Linked DNA regions of Homo sapiens. The protein of the gene in region 2 interacts with the protein of the main gene of each other region in a biochemical or structural test. Each region holds a gene or a part of one and is shown on either strand. Other genes may lie near its edges. The genes, in order: RAB2A and GDI2.

Region 1 (7,614 bases), on a different chromosome or scaffold from region 2:
TAGGAAACAAAAGCTCTGATGGCAAGTTCAGCAGTCAAATGTTTCCAGTGTAGAAAAGATAAAAGGTATGATTTGTTCCTCTCCATGAATGCTGTTTACTTTTTAAACTTTAAATTAGGTCTGTATCAGTGGTAATGGAGTATAGCTTTCTTTTATGAATTTTTATAGAATGCTAATTGAAGAGGACTTTATTGATTGGTACTGTTATCTGTGATCTGTCAAATCTGATAGTTTAGAACCTATTCAGAGTTTGTATATGCCTTCTATAGCATTCGTAATATTTATATATAATTTCTAAATATTTTACATAGAGAATGCTTGTGTATAAATTTTGGTATTTATAGGCTTCATTTGGTCTACAGTATTTCAACAGTAGTTTTTTATTTTGACAATTTAATGGCAAAGAAGTTGAGCCGTCTTTTCTCTCTTTATCGTAAGCGTCCTTTGATTTTGCTTTCTTAAACTATATACTAAATAATACATTATCATGGCAAAAAAGGCCCTGAGTGGAACTGTATTATCCAGAAGTAAGCTAGTTTTTACATGGAGGATTATGCAGTTTACATAATTGAAATGTGTTTTTCTCTGTGTGCTGTTCTCATATTCCAATATTCTTTTTTCCTCTCATGGTCATGATGTTTTCTTTTGAGATATAATTCACATACCATAAAATTGATGCTTTTAAACTATACAATTCGTTAGCTGGGTGTGGCAGCACACACCTGTAGTCCCAGCTACTCAGGAGGCTGAAGTGAGAGGATCACTTGAACTGGGAGGCAGAGGTTGCAGTGAACCGAGATTGCGCCGCTGCACTCCATCCTAGGCGACAGGGTGAGCCCCTGTCTCAAAAATAAATAAATAAACAATTCAGTGGTTTTTAGTCTATTCACAAAGTTACACAACCATCACCACTATCTAATTCCAGAACATTTTAGTTACCCCAAAAAGAAACCTCATACTCATTAGCATTCTCTCCCCTTTTTCTCTTCCATCTAGCTTCTGGCAACCAGTAATCTACTTTCTGTCTCCATGGATTTGCCTATTCTAGACATTTCGTACAAATGGAGTTGTAGTATTGTGGCGTTTTGTGTCTGCCTTCTTTCATTTAGCACAGTGTTTTCAAGGTTCATCCACATTGTAGCATGAATCAGTACTTCATTCCTTTTTATGGCCAAATAATATTCTACTAATTGAATATCTCAAATTTTGTTTTTTATTGACTGAACATTTCTGTAGTTTGCACTTGTTGGCTGTTGTGAATAATGCTGTTTGTAATGCTAATTAGCATGTGCGTACATCCTTTGTTCTTAATCTTAGGGGAAAGGCTTTCAGCCTTCATCTTCGAATATGATGTTAGATGTAGTTTTTCTTAGATGCCATTCTTTAGATCAGGTTGAGGAGTTCCCTTCTATTTCGACTTGAGTGTTTTTATCATGAAATGTTGGATTTTGTCAAATGCTTTTTCTATGTCTATTGATGATCATGAGGGCTTGTTTATTAATATAATGTATTACATCGATTGTTCTTTATTAATATGTTATTAATATCTTTGTTCTTTATTAATATGTATTACGTCGATTGACTTTCATATGTTGAATGTTATGATATTCTATAGAGCATATATAATGTTATTTTACTGCTTTGGTTTTATATAATATGAACCAATTTCTCTATATTTCAGGCATTTATTAATACAGCAAAAGAAATTTATGAAAAAATTCAAGAAGGAGTCTTTGACATTAATAATGAGGTATATACATATAAATATTGTTGGTCAATATTAATTTAGAGTTCACTTTTGATTACTATTTTATATTTTTTATTTTATAATTCATTATTTTATAATTTTTTTAATTCCTAAAATCAATCATGATAATCAGTTAACACCATTAGTTTACAGTCATCCAACTGAAAAATTGGTATATGTGGTATAGTAGTTAAATATTTATGTTCTAGTAGAGCAACACTTTGTCTATGGAAATGGATTAAAGTAAGTGGCCCTATCCATTCATTGCAAGCAATGCAAAATAATATAAATCCCCCAAAGAGAAAAGAAAATCCACTTTTATCCACATGACCATATGGTGTCATCTGCTTTGGGAATAATGTTCTGGTATATAAATGCATGTACTATGTACTAATGCAAGATGCTCTCTCTGTTATCTGGCAGGAAAGAGGGAAATACCAAATTTGGAAATTACTCCCAATATAGCATAGCATGTTTTCAGGAGACTAAATTCATATATATATATATAAAATTGGCATTTGGCATAGGGTTTTTTGTAATGTTATTTTGATCCTGTTTTGGTCAACATGATTAGGATAAAATGTAAAGCTTTGAAGCATCTAATTCAGAGTGTTCACCAAAGATCATCACTTGACCCACATCCCCACTCTGCATTTATCTGTATTTATTTCAAAATGTTTATGTGGATGTAGCCTACTTATTCTTACATAAATATTTTTGCCATTCTGTATTAAGATTTCTGGCTTCTGAAAGAAAAGCCCTGGTTTCTCCCCAGTTGCAGTTAGAAAAGCATTGTGTTAGGAAGCCATTATGTATGTCTCTCTCATCCTATACATAAATGAGGCTCTCTATTACTTCAGTAGTCTCTGCTCAGACAAACAGCAGTTTACCTAAGGTTTCCAAAAAGTACATGATTTTTTCATTGTTTAATTTGGAGTAATATAGTTTCTAAATCCTATCTTCTAGGCTTATATGACGGTACTTCTTGAGTTAGTTTAAAGGTGACACCATTCAGAGACTAATGCCATATAAATTGAACAGTAATTGGGCCTCTATCTAAAAGGGCACATTCATTGTTTCTGTCTGGTTTCATATAGTAGCTGACTGCTTTACTGTGCCTTATGCAGCTTTGATTGTAATGTGCTGTTGGGAGCCAACAGGCCGTGCTATTTATTTGGCCTAATGCCAAGTCTGACTCCTTGACTCCTCAAGAAGTTGCTACCAGCCCAGAGGGGGCAAAATCAATGAGCCATAGGGCATGCTTTTTATTAAAGAGGAGTCAAAAGAGCGAAAAGAAACCACATCAGCTGCTGTCAATACTGAGCTAGTGCCAGAAACCCCAAGGCTACTACTGTTGCAGAACAACTGCCAAGCACTATAAATCTGAGATTTACTGTGACGTAAAGTTTCCTTAAGAGCTTAATTTCTGAAGCTACTGTATTACTTTTCTCAAAGTGTTGTATTTTTAGGTAAAATCCACTTGAGGGAGTGAGGGTTAAGACATAAGTGTGAGTTTGATGAATGAAAGAACTACTCTGTGTGTGGGTTCTTGGCAAGCTGCCATGTCTTTGGGGATCATAGAAATTATTGATGACACAGAACACTCATATGCCCTTAGCCTGTACAGCTGATTCAACATGGAACAGAAACACTGTCTAGAGAAAAGATTTTACGTTGTATTAAAGCAGCATGGGCTTTGGGTATTTTTATGCTTTAAAGATTACTTGCAATAATTATTTTAAATGATTTCTGCATTATGAGAATTTCCTGAAAAGCAGCATTATCCAATAACTGTTTACCCCGTACCTGGTATGATAAAGAATTATTTTCAGAAACATTTCCACAGTGTTTTTAAAAGGAAGGAACATCCCTTAGGAGATATTGTTTTAATTGTTGCTAAAATCTACTTGCTGTATTTTTCTCAGTTGTTTGATAAAATTGTATCATAAAGAATTAAATGAGTTTTTTAAGAATTAGTTAAACTATATTGTCTGGTCATATTTATTGTTCTGTTCTCTTTTATTTCAGGCAAATGGCATTAAAATTGGCCCTCAGCATGCTGCTACCAATGCAACACATGCAGGCAATCAGGGAGGACAGCAGGCTGGGGGCGGCTGCTGTTGAGTCTGTTTTTACTGTCTAGCTGCCCAACGGGGCCTACTCACTTATTCTTTCACCCCCTCTCCTCCTGCTCAGCTGAGACATGAAACTATTTGAAATGGCTTTATGTCACAGAAGACTTTAATCCGTCAAATTCTTGTATAACTTTGAATAAATGGTTAATGTTCACTTAAAAGACAGATTTTGGAGATTGTATTCATATCTATTTGCATTTGATTTCTAGGTCAATTGATGTGATTATTTTTGTTAAATGTTGTCTTGTGCCCTTAACTACGAACTGAATTGTATTAAACACTACAAAGTCATCTTGAGTATTTTAAATCGGTTTGTGTAGTTAGGTTTCCCAACATCTGTGGTTACCTAATGTTTAATATTATAGAACTGTCCTCAGAAACTTTGTCAATTTTCACGGCTATAAGGAAACAGAAGGACTCTTTTAATTCTGTATTTATCATTTACTTTCTGTATATATAGTTTAATAACCTGCTTGGGTGTAATTTGCCAAGCTTGAATTCTTTAATGCATTTGCATAAATTCTATACTGTTTAGAGCTTAAAGCTACAGAAGCATTGTTAGGAATTGCTTGGACACTGAATTTTAAACTTTTTGACATTGTTAACAAGCATGTTCATCTTTTCTTGTCACTAGTCCAAGAAAAATATGCTTAATGTATATTACAAAGGCTTTGTATATGTTAACCTGTTTTAATGCCAAAAGTTTGCTTTGTCCACAATTTCCTTAAGACCTCTTCAGAAAGGGATTTGTTTGCCTTAATGAATACTGTTGGGAAAAAACACAGTATAATGAGTGAAAAGGGCAGAAGCAAGAAATTTCTACATCTTAGCGACTCCAAGAAGAATGAGTATCCACATTTAGATGGCACATTATGAGGACTTTAATCTTTCCTTAAACACAATAATGTTTTCTTTTTTCTTTTATTCACATGATTTCTAAGTATATTTTTCATGCAGGACAGTTTTTCAACCTTGATGTACAGTGACTGTGTAAAATTTTTCTTTCAGTGGCAACCTCTATAATCTTTAAAATATGGTGAGCATCTTGTCTGTTTTGAAGGGGATATGACAATAAATCTATCAGATGGAAAATCCTGTTACAAAGTAGAAAAGCTTTAGTAATTTACTCAGTGTGGTGGTTTTATCCTTTTTTTCTTTTTCTCCCTTGGTCTATAATGAAATTGTTACAGCAGTGCAAAATAAAATCCTATGTATAAAAGTGTTCTTTTTTTTTATTATGACCACCTCTTTTTTAATGTATTTTTAGTCCACTTACAGCTTTTACATGGGTTTAAGCATGTTTTTTAAAAGGGTCAGAATGGTTAACACTCAACCCTTTTTAAAAATTTTGCTAAAATGCGACAAATCTCACCATACTGAAATTATTTTTGTTGATGGTGTAAGCAGTGTAAGCAAGTGTTTTCTCCTGAACTAGCACAAAAGCACTTATGCCTGAAAGAAAGCATAAAGAAGTTCTAACTCTGAAACTAACTACTTTCATTTCGCTCATGGCCTTCAACTTTCTACAGGTCTTCCCTGAAGATTCAGCAGTACTCTCTCAAAGGTTTGACAGTACTCTTGTGGGAAATCACCAAATGCTGTCATAGTTTTGTTTTAACTGTCTCCTTGAGGGCAGAGGGAAGGGTGAGAGAAAATCTGTTTTCATGGGTATTTGTAGTACAGCCTTTTTTTCTTTCAAGTGGCTGTATCAAATTCACTGGTCTTACTAATCACTGTCTTTACCAGTGAGTACAAAAAGTTAAGGCAACTAGGACAGGTACTGCTCTATACCAAGAAGAGAATGATTCTTTGGAAATTGTTATTTTTAAGCTTCTGTTAATTTTTCCAGAAGTTTAGTGCGTTTCTTTTCCATACTTTCTCCCCTAATTCTTTTATTTGAAGAAGAGAACTTAATGGCAAATAAACAACAAACCAGGACATGCATTTTAATACCCTAAGGAAAAATGGAACCCTCAAATATAACTCCTCCCACAACCACCCTAATGTGCCTCAGTCTGGGGCAGCAGGTGGACTTCTCAATAGTTCTTTTCCACATTCTCTACAAATCACATCTACCGTTAAGGAATATGTTATGAATCCTTTCTGTTAATTGAGAAAGCAATGTTATTGTCTGTGATTTCCAGTCTTTGCTCATTTTATTATCCCTGTCAAATAATGTAATATTGGTACCTGCAGTTGAATTTGTAATATTGTAATTGAATTTTTAGTTGATCTTCGATCAGTTTTTATAGCATCTATGGACATAGAAAATCAGTCACTGAAAAAAATAAACACAGCTTTCAATGTCTCACTCAACATGTAACATTCAAAATTGTGATCTTCATAAAGACATTGTTACCATTCGTCTTGCAAATTTAAGACAACTGAATGAAAAGCCAATTTTTTGAAAGAATGTGGCATATAATTAGATATACAACTGAAACAGGATATACAACTGCATACAATTTGTTTTTAATGATATTTTAAAATAGCCTGTTAGCAGGAAAATAGTCCCTATTTATCTGCTAATGGTCAAAAAGAGTTAGGATATAAATCGTACCAAAATGTTTCCAATCACTCAGAAAAACTGATTCATGTCTGGCTTTGCAACACCTTAAACATTTATTCTGTCATAGATAGTAAAGCCCCATCTCAGTTTATTTAGTCCTGAGGTTGGCAGCATGGGGTTTGACTATATGAGCTAAAAGATACACAAAGAGATAACGCTGTTTCATAATAAACAGGAATTGACTATACAAATAGGTAAACCAGCATATCTACCTGTATTTCTCAGAGTTTAGATGTGTGCTTTATGTTTACATTAAAATAAAGCCTAACGCCACAGTAGATCATCTCATACTGCATTCGGATGTACTAGGTATTATTATTTTTTGGTTGAAGTCACGACAGAGAACTTCATTTTATTTATTTTGTTTATTTTGGGAGACAGGTCTCACTCTAATCCCCCAGGCTGGAGTGCAGTGGCGCCGTCTTGGCTCACTGTGACCTCCACCTCCCCAGGTTCAAGTGATTCTCATGCCTCAGCCTCCCAAGTAGCTGGGATTAGAGGTCCCTGCCACCACGCCCGGCTACTTTGTATTTTTAGTAGAGACGGGGTTTTGCCATGTTGGCCAGGCTGGTCTCAGACTCCTGACCTTAGGTCATCTGCCCACCTCAGCCTCCCAAAGTGCTGGGGTTACAGGTGTGAGCCACCATGCCTGGCCAAAAACTAAGTGCCAGTCTATATATTAGTATTAATTAGTTTTACAAAATTATGAGGCCAATTCTTAAACATTGAAGGACAAAGCACCAAACTCCTGATAGAAAAATGGAGGAAAATGAGCAATTTACAAAAAACATACAAAGTGTCCCTAAAATGCATTTTTAATTCAAATGTGAGTGATGGATACATTAATTTGCTTCACTCTAGTAACCTTCTATTTATGTGTATCCCATAACAGGTATACTTTTAAACACAATAAAATTTATTTTTAAAAATTCAAACAAATGCAAATTAAAGCTCAGATGCCATTTCTCACCTATGAGACTGGAAGAAATGTAAAATACAACGCCACATTGTATTGGTGAGGCACCTTTGTGTGGTGTTGGTAGAAGTGCAAACTGGAACTACCTTTCTGGAGGGGAACTTGGCAATACCTAATAAAATTACATGTACACTTGCTGTTGGCCCAGAAATCCCACTTGTAGGAATCCGCCCAAATGATAATTCTC
Region 2 (8,841 bases):
CCAAAGCTTCTGTTTCAAGCAAAACAAACCACTCCCCATTCCCTACATACATCCTTGACTTAGCATTGACTTACACTGACTGCTCTCTGCCTAAAAAATCATTCCTCCATTCAAACCTTGCCAATATTTTTTTAAAGCCAGCTAAATATCTCCTTCTTTACGAAGGTTTTCCTGATTCCCTGACTGAACTCATATAAGTGCACCTCTTAGGGGACTTAATGCTTTCTCATACTAATTCTTATTAGTTACTCTCCAACACGAGAACAAGCTACTTATAGACAGGTTCTGTGTTTACCTTTTTACTGCCCATAACTGATCACAATAGTCACTGGGTTTAAATAACTGAAACTGAAACTATTACTCCAGTAAGAGTCTCCAATCAGGTACCATGGGAGGGAAGACAGAGGTAATTGCAGTGTATCACGCATGTGAACATCTACCAGTGGTCTTTAAAAACCAATGTCACACTATTGTCATCTCTACATGCTAAAATATGTCTAATTTCACTTATATTTTCTTTTGGCCAGGATGCTTAACGCTGGTTTAAACTGCCTACAACACAGCTCCCAAGTGTAACAGCATTTGCAAATATTGATCCTATGCTCACTACTGTAGTGAATAGAAAGTCCTTTGTCTACAGAACTCTAACACAGCTATAAGCAAGAACTCTCAAAGAGCAAATCAAAGATTAAGCAAATCCAAGAGGCAATCTGAATTTTAGTTCAGAATTTTAAAATCAAGTATAAAACCTTCTCTGAATCTGAAATCACAAAATTCTGATAAAGAGAAATGAGGAAAAGTATCTGGGATGTAAAGCAAGTTTTTAAACATATGATGCTGAGAATCATCTGGTATACATCACTAAAGTATATATTTCTATTCATAAATTCTTACTGTGTAGAACAAAAAATGGGAAGAAAAAAACCTCTGGGAAGCACAAACAGCTGTGGAACTAGTTACTCTTATTGTTTTAATCTACTATGTCTAACAAGACTCGTGAATTTATTTCCAAGTCCATAGTGAACTATGTGCAAATTATGTGGTGAGAGGCTGCCTACACATGCTGAAAGCAGAGAAAAGTAAATGTTGCCAGCCTAACAGTAAAGTAAGATAGAGGGAAAAAATATGAAGAGTAAACTGAAGAGCTCAAAAAGCATAGCAGCCTGAGAGTAAAGGGGGCAAAAGTTCCTACAAAGCTGGCGGGGTCTTCATGGCTTCACCATGTTACAGCATAACACAATAGTTAATCTTCACTATGTGAAAACTTGGTTATCAAGTAAATTATGTTTCTTAGTTTGTTAAAGAAGTTGTGACAGCATTTAGAAAGGCATTATCCAAAAGCTGTGCTCTTTAGAGATAACCTTTAGTTCCTCAGAAAATTCAATTGTGTGGAATATTCCATTTCTTTTACACACAGAATGAAGATTTTACTCCTTTATACCAAATCGTTTTGTATCTTCTTGATTAAGATAACTATCAATATTTGTGATTATGAGCTTAGACTTAACAACTCATACAAACAATGGCAGCACTAAGCAACACAGCAACTCCAGCACTTCCTTACACTTCTTTAAAAGTAACAAGTTCCTAACACTGAAAGTACTTGCCTTTTTTTAGGTTCTTAAGTCTCAGGCACTAAAGTAAATTTTAAGAAAATTAATTAACTCCAGACATTCAAAAGTTAATTCTGAGTGCTAACTTTGGTTTTCTCTTCTTCTAATTTTTAATCATCTAATTCCTGGTAACACTAAAAATAAGGATATATGATTTCTCATTATCAAAATCATCCTGTCATCACTACTCCTATCAATGATGGTAATAATGTGATTGTCCTGAATTGATATAATTATCAAAGAACATCTCAGAAAACTTAGGAAGGCTCACAGAGATTAAAGTTATCACAGCTACAAAATGACAGCAGAAACAGGTCTGATTTCTAGTTAAGTATGCATCTACCATTCATCAAAGAGTTCACAATCCGAATGAAAATTTAAACAAAGCTCATTATCTTAACTTGTTATATAAAAACACTTTCACCATCTTTGATACAAAGTGATGTGAACGAGGCTTGTGGAAGCCTGCATGATGGTGGATTTGCACTCACTCGTGCATGCTTAACTGACCTCAATTGTGAGCAAATCTGAAAGACCAGCAACAACCATAGAAAAACGGTGGAACTAACCGGCTCTTAAAACACGCTGGCAGCAACACTACCCATTCCAACAGGCAAAATCCACCACAAACTACTAAGCTCAGCTTGGAATCCCAATTAGGCACTTAAAAAAAAAAAAAAAAAAGCACAAAACCTGCAGTGGGTAGGGCCTATTCATTTAGGCATCCAACAGTCTTCCAGCTTTTCAAAGACAGACACAGGATTATTCCTGGATTGGTCAAACATAACGAAGTATTCAGAATGAATATTCTCTAATAATTGCATATAACTATAAACAGAAAAATGACAGACCAGAAAAACACGATTCTAATTCTTCACAAACCTTTCCTAAAAAATTAGCCAAATAAAAGTTCGAAGGTTTTCTCTTGCCTAGAGACATCTAAAAGTGTTATTTTGGGATGTTACCTGTAAAAAAAAAAAAAAAAATTGGTTTGACCCTGAGAGATTATAATAAATTTCAAAAAATTTGAAGTGGAAGTCTACATTAAATGACTCAGGAATTTGAAGTCAGAGTACATAGGATACACAAGATTTACATCAGTATTCATCTTAATTATGATCAAGCAGCCCAAAGTTAGAATTTCAAATTTCCCCAAAAATTGATAGTTAAAATGGTTTTCTCCAAAGTGAATTCTTTTGCAAGATGAACATTTAAAAAAAAAAAAAAAAGAACAGAAAAAGTACAAACTACAGAACCTGCCTGCGTTATCTACAGATTACCTAAAGTTCCCTTAGAAACAGATAACCAGGAAAATCAATATACCATGATATTAGGTACACCTTGCATTCATATATTACAATGCATTCTTCATGTTATTATCTTCCAACTCCCTGAAGAAAGCTTCGGAGTACAGAGAACTTGGCTTTTAGCAATCCATCACCAACCCAATTCTTAGGGGAAAACAGTCCAGAAGAGACAAAGGAGGCAGAGAACCCACCAAACAAAAGGAAAAGGCGGCGAAGGTCAGGTGCGAAAGCATTTGACGGACAAGTTTTGAAAAAACTCAATTCCAATTCTACAGATGCTCAGTAAGTGAGAAGGGAGGGTGGCTAAAAGGATTCAATAATACTTCTCATTAGCAGGGGGGAGAAAGGATTAAAAGACTAATTTCCACGTTTTCGCCAAAAATATAAGTTAATCAAGCCCTAGCAGTTCCGAAGCAGTGATTATCCAAGACTTGTCAGGAAACCCCGTACTCGGCTTTGGCAGCCAGACTGACCCGGGGCAGCGGCCGAGGCGGAATAGGAAATGCAACCGCGAGGCCTGCACCGTCCCCTCCGCCTCGGGTGCTGGTTTCCAACCGGGCGAGGTCACCGGCCCAAACCGGGGAGCGGGACCCTTGGCCCGGGCGGCCTTCTCCCCTCCCCTCCGCTTCCGCTGGGGGCAAGCGCAGAGGCCGGGCTCGGCCGTCACCCCGCCCCGAGCCTCACGGCCCGCATCTCCATTTCCCCGCCTGCCCCTCACACTGGGAGCCGCCCGCTCGCCCCGGGACGCGGGGCGCCCCTGAACCCGCCCGCGCCCCTAGCCACGACTCCCGTCCCGAAAACTACGGCTGACGGCAGAACGAGACCCCCGAGGAGCTGCGACCCGCGGGCCGTGCAGGAGCCGGGGGTGCGCCCGCCCCGGCTGCTCAGCCCCGGCCCCTCAGCCCTGGCGCCCACCGTCAGGCCGGTGCCCAGCACGATCACGTCGTACTCCTCATTCATGGCGGGGCAGGCGCGGACGCAGGACCCGAGCAAGGAAAAGGCGCAGGGGCTCCGTGACCACCCTACGAGGCTGGGAGGCGCTCTTGGGCGCGAAGGAAAGGGGAAGAGAAAGAGAGGAAAATGGAGCTGGCGACAAGGCGAGACCGACCGCCACCTCAGACGGGAAGAGAAGAACTGGGCGGGGAGAGGAGGGGAGGGAGCGAGGAGGGGAGGGCTGTGACTGAGCCTCCGCAGCCGGGGCGGGGCCTGCAGGCGCCGGGAGGGCCGCCAATCAGGCGCTCCCGGCACTCTAATTGGTTACGTCCCCGTCGCTCGCACAACTTTTTTTCCTTCCCCGCCTCTCGCGAGAGGAAAAGGGCGGGGCGTCGCCATTTTGGCTTCCGGTTCCCCTTGCGGCCTCTGCCACGGTGGTTCGGGAGGCGGCGCGCGGGCCGGGGTGGAGGTGCACGGAGCCGCGGGCGGGGACTGCTGGCCACCACCGTTCTGACTCCCGCCGTCGGGGCGGGAGCTCGCTCGGTCCAAGGTCCCAGAGCCGGATCGCCGCCCTTGGACTTTGAGCGGGCGCGTGCGGCGGCCACGTGGGCGAGGAGCGCGGGCCGGGCTGCCTCTCGGGGGTGGCGGCCTTGGTTCCTCCCGCGGGGCTGGGCTTGCCGGGGCCCGGAGCCCGCCGGGAAGAGTTCGGAAATCACACGTGTCCTTTTTCCCGCTCTGTGCCCTCCTTGTTTAGTGCGTTGCCGGTGGGCGCTTTAGGAAATTGGTAGGAGGAAAAGCGGCTTCTTTTGAAAAGGTAACCCTTAACAGAGATGAAAGTGAAAGCCAGGTTTCATTGGGAAGCCGATCTGCACCTACCGAGGGCTGTAACTTAAAGCCGCTGTAAACGTGGTAGCTGATCCTTGTATGCAAAGGTTTAGGCCCTAAGCTTAGAAACTGTTCCTTGCTTGCCTTCTACCCCGCTCCTCTTTTTCTAGAATTCTCTTAGGAATCTCTGGCTTCATTGAGGACACAGGTGTAAGCAGAAGCTGTGTTCTCAGCTCCAAGAGGCCGACCCCACGAAAGCCTAAGCAGGTGAATTTCGTAAAGACGTTGACAGTTGGAAAACCTGTGCTTTCAGCACGTGATAAATCTGCAGAGTCAGCAGACAATGAAGATTTGGCATTCAAGAACTCCTCAAATACTTCTCGATAGTAGCTATTCAGAGCCTGCCTTGATAGACCGAACTTGCTCATATTTAAATCATTAAGATAGAGGAAAGAATGTAACAACTTTTTAAAATGTTTCTTACCCCATAAATACTTGAAGAAGATATGTTATATTGGACCATGGATCTTTCTGGGGGGGAGGGGAGAAGAAAGCAAAAGTAAAGTTTAAATTTACATTCAACCTTAATTTGATTGTATATATTTGTGACCAAATGAATTAGTGCACAGTTGACCATACAACTGATTATGCAACAGTGAGTGTAACTGACTTTTCTTTTGGCTAAGCTAATGATGACTAAAGAAGGTCCTTCTGTTGCTCTGTCTTCAAGTCATCAGGGGGTCATACTACCTATATTTTTGAACCAATATGAAATAACCCTTTTTCTTTATTTTTCTGAGACAATCTCACCCTGTCGTCCAGGCTGGAGTGCAGCGGTGTAATCATGCCTCACTGCAGCCTTGATCTCCTGGGCTCAAGCCATCCTCCCACCTCAGTCTCCCCAGTAGCAGGGACAAGAGGTACAGGCCACCACACCTGACTATTGGCCCTTTTTTTTTTATTAGCAATAACAATAAAGAGCTTTTTTCACAATTGCCATCAGCCTCTGGCTCTTGAAGAGAAATTTAAGCATGTCAACTGAATTATGTTAACCATGTTTTAGGTGAAGACTATTTTATCGATACTCAAGAGTTGTGAGAAACTTGAAGACACTGAGATAAGGGAATTGAATTTAAGGCTAATAAGGATCCCTTCCTTACTTAACACTGAAGTTCATTTTAGTTCACAGTACAGGCCCTATGGCCCAACAGAAGGACAATAACAATCAAACCTGGACTAAGCCTTAACGGACTGAGTGCATCTAAAATGTTGTACCTGAGCCAGGCACAGTGCTTCACACCTGTAATCCTAACACTTTGGGAGGCTGAGATGGGAGGATCACTTGGGGCCAGGAGTGGGAGATGGGAGAATCACTTGGGACCAGCCTGTGCTGTAGAGCCTAGGTAACAGAGACACTGTCCCTATAAAAAAAATTAGCTGGAGGCCGGGCACGGTGATTGATGCCTGTAATCCCAGCACTTTGGGAGGCTGAGGTAGGCGGATCACAAGGTCAGGAGTTTGGAGTTTGAGACCAGCCTGGCCAATATGGTGAAACCCCATCTCTACTAAAAATACAAAAATTAGCCGGGCATGGTGGCACGTGCCTGTAGTCCCAGCTACCCGGGAAGCTGAGGCAGAGCAATCGCTTGAACCCGGGAGACGGAGGCTGAAGTGAGCCGAGATCGCGCCACTCCACTCCCGCCTGGGCAACAGAGTGAGACTCCGTCTCAAAAAAAAAAAAAAAAAAACTGGGCAGGCTGGGTGCAGTGGCTCACGCTTGTAATCCCAGCACTTTGGGAGGCCAAGGCGGGTGAATCACGAGGTCAGGAGTTCAAGACCAACCCGTCCCAAGATGGTGAAACCCCGTCTCTACGAAAACTACAAAAATTAGTTGGGCGTGGTGTCAGGCGTCTGTAATCCCAGCTACTCAGGAGTCTGAGGCAGAGAATTGCTTGAACCCAGGAGGCAGAGGTTGCAGTGAGCCAAGATCGTGCCACTGCACTCCAGCTTGGGTGACAAAGCGAGACTCAGTCTCAAAAAAAAAATCAGCTGGGCATGGTGGCATGAGCCTGCAGTCCTGGCTACTCAGGAGGCTGAGCTGGGAGGATCACTTGAGCCCAGGAAGGTCAAGCCATGATGATGCCACTGCACTCTAGCCTGGGCAACAGAGCAAAACCCTGTCTCAAAAAAAGAAAATTCTGTGCTTTTCTTGGATCTTCCACCCCACCCATTCCAGTTGCAAGGGAACTTGTAGATGACAAATACTGCTTAAGGTGAAGAGGCTTGAAAGCCACTAATTGGTTGAGTTGATCTCATGCCACAGATGGTAGTTCCTGCTACAGTGAAACCTTAGGTTTAGGGGAAGTAGGTTGGTTGGTGAAGATGAGTGGTAAACATCAATCTTTATTTTTAATTTTATTTTTTGGTGCCAAAACCCAAGATCAAACCAGGACACCATCAATCTTTAAAATATTTCAAATCTTGAAATCAGCCAGGTGTGGTGGCACATGCCTGTAGTCCCAGCTACTCGGGAGACAGGCAGGAGAATCAGTGGAACCCGAGAGGCTGAGGTTGCAGTCAGCCAAGATCGCGCCACTACACTCCAGCCTGAGTGACAGAGCCAGACTCCGTCTCAAAAAAAAAATAAAATAAAATATTTCAAACCTTTATGCAAAGCAGGAATCCATGGAGTCTTATTTATACTTGGGTACATGGGAATAATTGTTTGCTGATCTGTTTTTACTAAGCATCCATCTGCCCTTTGAAAAGGAGAGATTTAATCTAAGGAAAGAAAATGAGAGCGAACCTCAGCCCAGACCATCTTTTTCTCTCCTGCATCACTGTGGCAGTTTCTCAACAGGCTTTTTTCCCTCTCTTTTTCCTCTTCTCCTATCTGTTCTGTCCATTATCTTCTAAAAACACGCATCAGATCATGTTCAGGCTTCTGTATATCTTTTGTACTTAGAATACATTGTAGATCCTAGCCAGGCATGGTGGCTAACGCCTGTAATCCCAGTGCTTTGGGAGGCTGAGGCAGATCACCTGAGGTCAGGAGTTCGAGACCAGCCTGACCAACATGGTGAAACCCCGTCTCTACTAAAAATACAAAAATTAGCCTGGTGTGGTGGTGCACATCTGTAATTCCAGCTACTCAGGAGGCTGAGGCAGGAGAATTGCTGGAACCTGGGAGGCAGAGGTTGCAGTGAGCCAAGATGGCGCCACTGCACTCCAGCCCGGGAGACAGAGCAAGACTCCATCTCAAAAAAAAAAAAAAAAAAAAAAGGGATACATTGTAAATCCTTAAATATGACCTAATACCTTAATCTAGCCTCTGTATGTCTCTCCAACTCTATTTTTTAGTGCTCCTTGGCTCCTTGATCATTAAACCCCAAACATGCATGTGTTTCGGTTCCTAGAATCTGGTCAAGCTTTCAACCACCCGAGGGCCTTTGTACTCTTGGTTCCATGGCTACCACCCCTCACTTCCCCCTGCACTTCTTCATACAGCTAACTTTTTCCACTTCCTTAGGTCTCAGCTTTCCCCTCAACCATCATTCTCTATCAGTACCCTGCTTGTTTCTCACTGCTCTTATTAGAGGGGGTAATTATTTTCTTCACTTGTTCTTTGCTTTTCAAATTGGATGTAAACTCCATAGGGGCAGGGATATGAAGCCTGGACAGCCAGTAAAGGGCTGAGCAACTAGTAGAGGATGAGTAAATATTTGACAAATGAATAGGGGACTTGGAAGTTGAGCCCTAGATCAACAAGGACTGAATATGATGATATTGGTACTAGTTTCCTTTTTTCTTTTTTAAGACAGGGTCTCACTCTGTTGCCCAGGCCAGAGTGCAGTGGCACAACCATAGCTCTGTGCAGCCTCAGCCTCCCGGGCTGAAGTGATCCTCCCTCCGCAGCCTCCTGAGTAGCTAGGAGTACAGGCATGTGCCCACCATGCTCAGCTAATTTTTGTATTTTTGGTAGAGATGGAGTGTCACCTTGTTGCCCAGACTAGTCTTGAATTCCTGGGCTCAAGCAGTCTGCCCACCACAACCTCCGTAGGTGCTGTGGTTACTGGTGTGAGCCACCACGCCAGGCCCCAGTTCCTCTTGATACTTTGGAGAAATACAACTTTTCTTCTAGGAAGAGATATTAAAACTAATAT

The links.
Region 1: the proteins of GDI2 (region 2) and RAB2A form a complex in vitro, tested with the Homo sapiens proteins (one study listed by BioGRID).

What each region holds. Positions count from the first base shown.
Region 1 is NC_000008.11:60,616,899-60,624,512, forward strand, and holds the end of RAB2A (ras-related protein Rab-2A), read left to right. Parts: intron 1-1,681; coding exon 1,682-1,750; intron 1,751-3,775; coding exon 3,776-3,871; 3' UTR 3,872-6,746; downstream 6,747-7,614.
Region 2 is NC_000010.11:5,809,379-5,818,219, forward strand, and holds the start of GDI2 (rab GDP dissociation inhibitor beta), read right to left. Parts: upstream 4,057-8,841; 5' UTR 3,881-4,056; coding exon 3,836-3,880; intron 3,820-3,835; exon of another isoform or gene 2,937-3,819; intron 2,579-2,936; exon of another isoform or gene 1-2,578. UniProt on the Homo sapiens protein: GDP-dissociation inhibitor preventing the GDP to GTP exchange of most Rab proteins. By keeping these small GTPases in their inactive GDP-bound form regulates intracellular membrane trafficking.